Regions from separate parts of the Homo sapiens genome. Here region 1 is linked to region 2. The links come from fine-mapping of genetic effects on gene expression. A gene starts in region 2. The other region holds a variant in brackets. All regions are shown on one strand. Distances are between the middles of the regions.

Region 1 (4,373 bases), 44 kb after region 2:
TATATTACATATATTTCACTTACGTATATCATGAAATTTTCCTAATTCATTGGCCATGAAAACTTAATTTACATTGTTTATTTTTATCAGAAAAGTAATAGATTCTTTTAGAAAATTTAGAAATAATATTTAGCAAAAAAACAATAATTATCGATGTTTCTCATTCAGATAACTACTCTTAACATTTCCTGTATACTTTTCCAGTCCTTTCTTGCATATGCATTTTCTAAAAGGACTATGATAGATTGTATGATGAATTCTACTTTATAACCTTCACTTAAATTATTACAGACATGTTTCCAATTCACCGTCTTTTTTTAACCACATCATTTTAATGATTGTATTAGATTCTTCTATTTTCAGACATCTATGTTGTTTCTAGATTTTAATGTTATAAATAATATCATTATGACCTCTTTTGCACTAAATATTTATGTGCATCTTTGGTTGTTTCCTAAGGAAAAATTTAAAGTGGAATTACTTAGATCAAAAGGGTAGGCCCATTTTGGGGGCTTCTAATGCATATTACCAAAATGTTCTTCAGAAAGATTTTCTGGTTTTATGCTGCGAAGAGAATATGAATACTTATTTTGCTGTGTTCTTATCAATATTGGGTATTAGTATTTTTAAAAGTTGTTAACTGAAAACTGGTATATTATGTGAATTTACATTTTCTTGCTGCTTAGTGATGTCCTGTATTTTTCCTGTGTGTACCATGACTGACCAAATTGCCTTTTGTGTCCTTTGGCCTCAGAACTGTAAATTAAATGGTGTTCATCTTTTACTCCTTATTTTCATCTTGCTAGAAACAAGAACAGATTATATAATAGATCACGGAATTTTAAAGATAGACAGGAATACACCTTGTTTCACCCTCTCATGTCACAGATGATTTTACTCAGGCCTAGAAAATATAAATGACTTTCTCTCAACATCACACCACCACTTTATGGCAGTCAGGGCTAAAGGTTGCTGGCCTCAAGTGATCCTCCCTGCTCAGCCTCCCGAAGTGCTGTGCTGTGCCTGGCCTCCTGGTGTGCCTGGTGCCTGGGTGTTTTTATTGTGCAGCTAGGGTTGAGAACTCCTGAACCAGAGAAGGATGTGGGGCCTTATGAACTGTAGGTGGGGTGAAGAGAGTGTTTATTTTGTTTATGTCTCTGTTCATGTATTTTCAAAAACTTTTCATGAGGGTTGAAATAGCAAACACTGTTTATGGATATTTACTGTCTTTAAAAAGCCTCAGTTGTGAACTTTTACTTAAAATTCCAAACACAGCAAGATTACTGTTACATTTTGAAATGTGCAAAGATATGTAAGTTAAGGTTTGTCAAGAACAATAGGGGCGGGTGCCAGTGGTTCATGCCTATGATCCCAGCACTTTGGGAGGCCAAAGTGGAAGGATTGCTTGAGCCTAGAGGTTCAAGACCATCCTGGGCAACATAGTGAGACCTCATCTCTAGGAAAAATTCAAAAATGAGGTGGGAGGATTGCTTGAGCCCAGGAGGTTGAGACTGCAATGAGCTGTGATTGAGCCTTGCACTCCCACCTGG[G/A]TGACAGAGTGAGACCCTGCCTCAGAAATAAGAACAGGATATGTCTGAAATTTCCCAAGTTGAGTATTTCATTGTACCCTTCTCATTGAGCCAAGTTCTTTTAGCTAAGCTTTTTAAGACAGTTTGTTGCACATAAAAGCAGAGAATCTTGAGGCTCTCACATCTCATATTCAAATTGCCATTTAAAAATCGTTCCTTTGCTCCTTTGTTTTTATTACTTTTCCCCTTGCTTGTGACATTGGTCTTTCCTTGAGGAAATTGACTCCTGGTTTTACTGCACTAGTGGTTCACTCTCTCTGCAGAAGCAGCAGAGGGCACTACTCAGAGGTTTTCCTGCTCCTGGAAACCGAGACGGTGCCCTCCCCGCCCTCCCCTTGCAGTTAGTTGTATAACTAGTTTGAAGAATTTAATCCTTGGCCGGAATCCTAATTCTTCCTTTGGACGCGGCTCTAGAAGCATCCACTGATAGATAGAAATAATTGTTGGGCTAGTTATTTTAATAAATTCAAAGATAGTAAATAGAACTGACCACCTTATCCTAATTGGTGTAAACATAATGTTGCTCTCAGGACTTTTACAAATTACTAGTAATGATGAAAAATGCACTCATCAAGACTTTGGATTATCTTTTATTCTATTTTTTGTGTCACTGATACATTTCTGAAAACACAAGAAGATTCCCTCCTACTATTTCTCCACTTAAAATACTTAATACTGAAAAGCTGAGTGTCATTGGTTGTTGAATTTCTGCTGGAGTTGGCGAGATGACTGTTAACACTCTAAAATTAGGGGCTTCGCTTTCCCTCGGGCTTATGAGAATGGTTTAAATATAATAGATACTCAGTAAATATTTATTGATTGATACACAGCTTTGGGATCCCAAGTCAGGATCTGCCTCTACTCAGTCTAATAATGCCCTTTGGGGAGAAACATTTTTCATTACAGATTTCTCTTAATTGTAAGAAATCTTTAATTCTGAAAGGTTAAAAAAAAAGTTCAGTTCAGTCGTTCTTTAAATCTTTTGGGTCATAGGAACCTTTGAAAATATGGTCTATGCTCTGCAACCTTGCATCAGGAAAAATCTTCCTTCACAAGACTTTGCCTATAATTCCTAAAGATTTATAGCAATTTCTGAAGGCCAGCTGCAGACATCCCAGGGAAATCTCTGGTCCTTACGCTAAGACCATCCTCTACTGCCCCCTACTGGCTTGTCCTGGCCATGGGTCCCATGAAAAGATGGAGATTATTTCTACGTGACATTTATAAATATTTTTGTTCTCTTCTCCAGGGCTAATTGACTATAATTTTCATTGCTTCCGGAAGGCCATTCATGAAGTTTTTGAGGTGAGAATGAAAGTAGTAAAATCTCGAAAGGTTCAGAATCGGCTGCAGAAGAAAAAGAGAGCCACCCCTAATGGGACCCCTAGAGTGCTGCTGTAGGTGAGGTTTCAGGAATGTCTTTTGAAATCAGACCTTATCCATGAGGCTGCTGCGCCATGTTGCACTAAAGGAAGAGGAAGAAGGAGATTGGGACACATACCATTGATTTGTTGTTAAAAAAAAAAAATTCCTGCAACCCTCTTGATCTTCTCTTTTATAAATAAAGTAAGCACTTTGAAGCAAAAACTTGTATATTAACAGTGATGTGAAATCCATTGTCATTTCATTACACAAATGTAAACTTTTATGGTCTGTAGTCAAAAAAATCCCGTGTGAGAACTGCCAGGAATTGTACATATTTTGCACTTTTTCATGTTTCTCATTGAACTGAACTTTGATAAAACGACTTTTCTAAGCTTTTTTTCTGTACTTGGTGTCAAGGACATGCATACTGTAGTCCATATCTATATGGCAATCAGAAATTAATCAAAAAGTGATGCATTGGTAATGACTTTTTGTAAATTTGGAAATCTTTGCTACCAATTGTTGAGAAAAATCATTTTTCAGTGGAGCTGGAACAGATTGGAGCTACAAGCTCCAGGAGCAATAAGAACTGTCCCCTATTTATAATGGGTGTAAACAGTTTTGTAGAATAATGCTAGCACCAGACTTACCTAAAAATTTCTATAGCAGTGGCTGTGCTTCCCTGCTCAACGGTTTTTATGAAGCTGTTTACCTCAACACACATCTCTATAATCACTTTATACAGAGAGGTTATTTCTTTTTGTTGCATTAGTATTCTTTTGAAACTTTGGGACCAGATTTCCAAAATGGTGCCGAACACTGGAGAGAAGTAAGAATGTCACTGAATTGTAGGGTTTCTGGAGGCTTTTCTGTACCTACCACCCAGGGCTAAAGTAACATCAGAGGCCTAAAGTTGTTCCAAAAGTATGTGATTGGCAACTGCAGACTAAAAAACATAGATACAATTCTGGACTTTTGGCCCTGTGCGATGGTCTGGTGTGCTGCATTTAAAATGCTTATTCAGGACCAGTTCTTTATTGCTCCATGACCATAGTGAATAGAACAAATCGCAGAACCCCACCATGGAGCTCAATCCTGTTAGTCACTTTTGTCACCTCCACATCTCCTTCTCACTGGTGATAACATGCCTCATGTACTCCACTTGTTCCCACCTTATGATTAAGCCAAGCTCAGCCTGCCACCAGCATGCTCTGCAAGGCTGAAGAGTCATCCTGAAGACCCCTAAAGGTCAGTGGGAAAAGGATGGCTGGAGAGACATTACAATTAGCTGTGTAATTGTTTCTGTGAAATTATTTCACTTATGTTTACTTTAGACTAACAGGAAATTAAGAGTCCTAAATCTACCCCTATGCCAAATCATTCCAAGTAGATAATTTTACGTGCATCTCAAGGGTTAGC
Region 2 (4,357 bases):
GACTCTTTAGCTTGGGGTAGAATATAATTGAGGATTTGACTTCTACTGATTTTTTTGTGGGATTTTATTTTATTCTTATTCTTAAGAATGGTCCAGGTTGGGTGCGGTGGCTCATGCCTGTAATCCCAGCACTTTGGGAGGCCGAAGTGGGTGGATCACCTGAGGTCAGGAGTTCGAGACCAGCCTGGCCAACATGGTGAAACGCTGTCTCTACTAAAAATACAAAAATTAGCTGGGTGTGGTGGTGCATGCCTGTAGTCCCAGCTACTCAGGGGCTGAGGCAAGAGAATCGCTTGAACCTGGGGGGTAGGGGTTGCAGTGAGCTGAGATCATGTCACTACACTCCATCCTGGGTGATAGAGTGAGACTCCATGTTAAAAGAAAAAAACAAAAGAATGGTCCAATTCTCAAGTATCTTGGAGTGTGCCCCAATCTATTGTTTCCTTCTAAGATCTCTCTTCCTGGGGAAGTTAGAGGATCATCAGACATTTCTGTCCTTTCTAGTCCATAGGCACAGTGGGGCTGTTGGATTATGACCTGCCCTTTCCTGATCCCTTGAGTCCATGGGTCTTACACACTTGGCAACCTGCCCAGGAATGCCCTATACGTCTGAGTCTGGGTTGACCTTGGACAGTCTTCTAGATCTCCTAAATTGTTATTTGCAGTTTGAATCAGACCAGTTCAAAGGCCACTTGAGGATGGTGGGCTAGCTATAGAATAGCTGAAAGTCCTCAGCCACACTCTGGGAGGCCCTCCTCCCTGGGGTTTCCTTTGACGGAAGGGATGAAAATAGGCTAGGAAAATTACTCCTAGGAAATGAGCTTTGTAAGTACCTGAGATTTTTTTTCCGCCTCATTTAATCTTCCTAATAATCCTTAGAAGGAGTGATGTTCTATTGATAAGCAATCGGGTTTAGAAGGGCATAAGTAACTTGCCTCTGATGGGAGTATGTAGTGCCTGCTTGTGTTGGTGATGCTCCTTGCACCTCACCCCACCCAGGGACCCACTCCCTGCCCTCCCTATCCAATCTCTGTCCTGGACTAGGTTCCAGGCTCCCTTGCCTTCTGGCTACCAGATGGGTTTGGCCAATGGGAGACACAGGAGAGTGGAGGGAGGATGGATGGAGAGAAAGAGAGGTCTTTGCTCTCTCCTTGATGTGAGGCCGTTCTGGCAGCAGCAGCTTCCTCATCAGTTACAGCTCCTGTTTTGTGGCCCCTCTCCAGGACTCTAGCTCCCTTCCTCACTCCTGTAAATTTAGGGGTGGTGTTATCTTCCCACTATCGCTAATACCTGCATTGATTCCCTAAACTCTGTCCACACCCCTGTAAATTGTTCCTTCACTTGAAGGCTTCAGTTAAAGTCTTTGCACATACCGTCTGTTTCATCCTGGGAAGAACCTTAACTGATACAGTCATACCAAATTATACTGCCTGCCTCCCTTGGAAAATCTCAGGACCTTTCCCATTAGAAGCAGCCACCTTCTGGAAAGTGTCTGCATCCACCTTCTGCACTCAGAAATACTAAAAAAAATCCAGGACATGAGTCATGATTTGGTAGACTGTGAGCTCCTTCAGGGCAGGAACACTGCCCTGAGCATTCTTGGACCCTCTACTTAGCCCAGCCTCAGGCATATAGGAGGTGGTTAATAAATGTTTCCTATGGAGGTTAGCACCCTTGGGCCCTGAGAGTCTCCTGCCCTAGCTTCCTCCCTCCGCTTCTGCACCGCACCACCGGCTGAGCTGCTGGCACCTGTAGGAGCTGGATCATCATGCTGACCGGCCGGTTTTTTCTTATTGTGCTCCACAGAAGGAAGTTCATCCACGTAATTTTTTGCAGTACCCAGAAAGGGTGGGTACAGTGTGTTCCGTGGTGAAAAGCTTGTGAAGGAGGAATGCAGGTTTTAGAGTCTCACTCCACGTTGCTGCTATTCCTATTTGAGAATTGCCCCCCCACCACCGCCACTCCCCTACTCCCACAAAAGCCTTGAAATATTTTATTCATGTGGGATTACAGTCTATGCAACAATGAGACATGAGGAGGTGGCCATGAATAGCCCCCGAGTGTGTTATACACTGAGACCTTTTCCAAAGGGCTGCAGAGGAATTATTTAGTCTAAGCAGCCACGAGTCATGTGATTTCTTCAGAAACATTTACGTCTGGGTAGGCCTGCTTTTTAAATATTCTTGGTGGGAAGCACTTTGAACCATAAAGGCACACTAAAAGACAATTGCTATGGAGACTGCGCCTCCACTGTGCATTTATCTGAGTTCTCCGCCTGGGGCTCTTGAGCGTCCACAGGGTGTCCTGGGCACGCTGCTCTGGGGTGGGGGATCTGGGCGCCACAGTGTTGGGAGGCCACCCGCTTGGGACCCTAGCTCAGGACTGTAAGCAGGAGGCATCCGCCCACGGTAGACGCTCTGCGGGCGTGTGGGAGTGGGACGGCGGGGGGGACATTGAGGGTGTGCGGCGCCCCCTCCCCTGCCTGTGCGGGGACCACGTGAAGGAGAGGCGCGTGGGGGCCCCTGGCGCGCAGCCGCGGTGGGTGACGGCCGGCGTCCCGGGGGCCCCGTGTACGGGGCGTGTGTCGGTGTGAGTCTGGGAGGGTGCAGGGGCCCCGCGCCTCCCCGGTCTCCTCGTGCGTGTGCGTGTGCGTGTGCATGTGTGTCCTCGGCCCAGCGCCCCGCCGAGTGGTGCCCGCGGCCGGGCGAGCGCGCGCGCGCCCGTGCGGGGTGTGTATGTGAGTATGTGACAGTGTGTGTCAGGTGACTCGGGTCACGCAGTCTCTCTCTCTCTCCCTCCTCCGGGAGGAACTGCCGCGCTCCGGCTGACTCCTCCGCCGGCGGGCGGGGCGGGGGAGGGGGCTTCGGGCGCGCTGGGAACCGCGGGACCCGGACCTGGGCGCCGCCCGCCGGGGGACGCGCGGCCCCCGCTTCCGCCGGGCCCCGCTGAGCTCTAGACAAACCTCCGCTTCAGAAATAGGCTGCGGGCGGCCGGCTAGGAGGCTTGGCCCCCACCCCGGGACCCCCGCCGTCCCCGGGCCGGCCGGCCGGTGGGCACGATGAGCCAGGTGCTGGGGAAGCCGCAGCCGCAGGACGAGGACGACGCGGAGGAGGAGGAGGAGGAGGATGAGCTGGTGGGGCTAGCGGACTACGGAGACGGGCCCGACTCCTCCGACGCCGATCCGGACAGCGGCACAGAGGAGGGAGGTGAGCGCCCGGCCCCCGCGTCCTCGGCTCGCGCCCCTTTCCTCCCCTTGGCGCCTTCCCGCCCCCAGCCCGGCCGTGCGCGAGCCACCGACTTGGAGGGGGTCCAGGGGAGCGGGTCCAGTTGAGGGTTTGGGGTGGGGAGGGACGCCAAAAGCCCGACCTCGAGCTGCCAAATGAGGGAGCGCGGTGCTGGTGGCGGAGGGGCAACCAGGATCGGTGGAAAAGGGGAAGGAGGGAGTAAGCGTCTGGGCTGGAGGAGCGCGCGCTTCTGCCCCTTTCAGAGCCGGTGCCTCCCGCGCCCCTCACCCCAAGCTCTCCGCAGCGTCTGGCGGTTGGGGAGGGGAGGGGACCGCGGGCGCGCCCTGGGACCTCTCTCCCAGAACGGTGCTGTTGAAGCCAGGGTCAGATGTCGTGGCTAAAAAAAGGCAGCCGGCGGCGGCGTGACTGGCAGGGTCGTCGGCAGCTGCGGGTGTCAGTCTCGCCCCGCGTCGCCGCGGGAGGGGCCCACCCAGGTAGTGGCTGGGGAGACCCGCGGGGCGGCGGGGGGATGCTCGCCAAGCTGTTGTGGGAGTCTCCGAGAGGCCGCAGATTTCCCGGGATCCACGCAAACACCGTTGTCAGGACACCTTATCTGCTCTCGGTATCACCACCTGGACATGGCAGTGCCTGCCCGGGAGTGAGCGCGCGGCGGGGAATTCTTTGCTTCAATAGTGAAGCAAACTCTTTTTCCTGTTCTAGAAGCGGGTTTTAGCAATCGTTCAGCTTGTGGGGGCTTCCTGCATTTTCTTAAGGTGTAAGGAAGTTGAGAGCCTTTTAGTATTCCAGAGAGGTTAAACTTTTTTTAGTTTCCCTCAGAAGCGAGCAAAAGTTCCTTTACTGTAAGGTCACTTGGAAAGGTCAATAGAAAGCGGCTGTTAAACATGATGTTATTCTCAGTGAAACTGTATGCATCCAAGAGAAGGAACTAACTTTAATGTTTCACACTGAAGAAATTGTGTGAGAGATACAAGTACCTTTGTGACTATTGATTTTTAAAGAACTTTTATTGAGAATTCACTGAACTTATTTTAAATTCTCTATGCAAAGCTTTTCTCACTAGGGTAGTTTCATTATTCTACATCTGGCAGGCACGACTTTCAATGAATCAGAAA

Which allele goes with the higher level. Alleles are on the strand shown, and positions count from the first base shown. SD is a standard deviation of normalised expression in the study named.
In carriers of allele G in region 1, the expression in CD4 T cells of the gene that starts at base 2,779 in region 2 tends to be higher than with A alone (moderate effect, 0.54 SD a copy in BLUEPRINT).

What was found.
Region 1: its variant is fine-mapped to the expression of RRAGD in CD4 T cells (BLUEPRINT, PIP 0.95).

What each region holds. Positions count from the first base shown.
Region 1 is chr6:89,366,673-89,371,045 of GRCh38, reverse strand. It overlaps RRAGD (Ras related GTP binding D), which reads left to right. Exons shown (of 7, transcript NM_021244.5): 7 at 2,839-4,373. The coding sequence ends at 2,990. Among named protein-coding and RNA genes, the nearest start is that of UBE2J1, 16 kb to the right of the region's middle. RefSeq lists an enhancer at 2,780-3,009. The variant G/A (reference allele first, on the strand shown) is at 1,551.
Region 2 is chr6:89,410,695-89,415,051 of GRCh38, reverse strand. It overlaps RRAGD (Ras related GTP binding D), which reads left to right and starts at 2,779. Exons shown (of 7, transcript NM_021244.5): 1 at 2,779-3,206. The coding sequence starts at 3,059. RefSeq lists silencers at 2,363-3,552, 3,583-3,692, 3,723-3,822.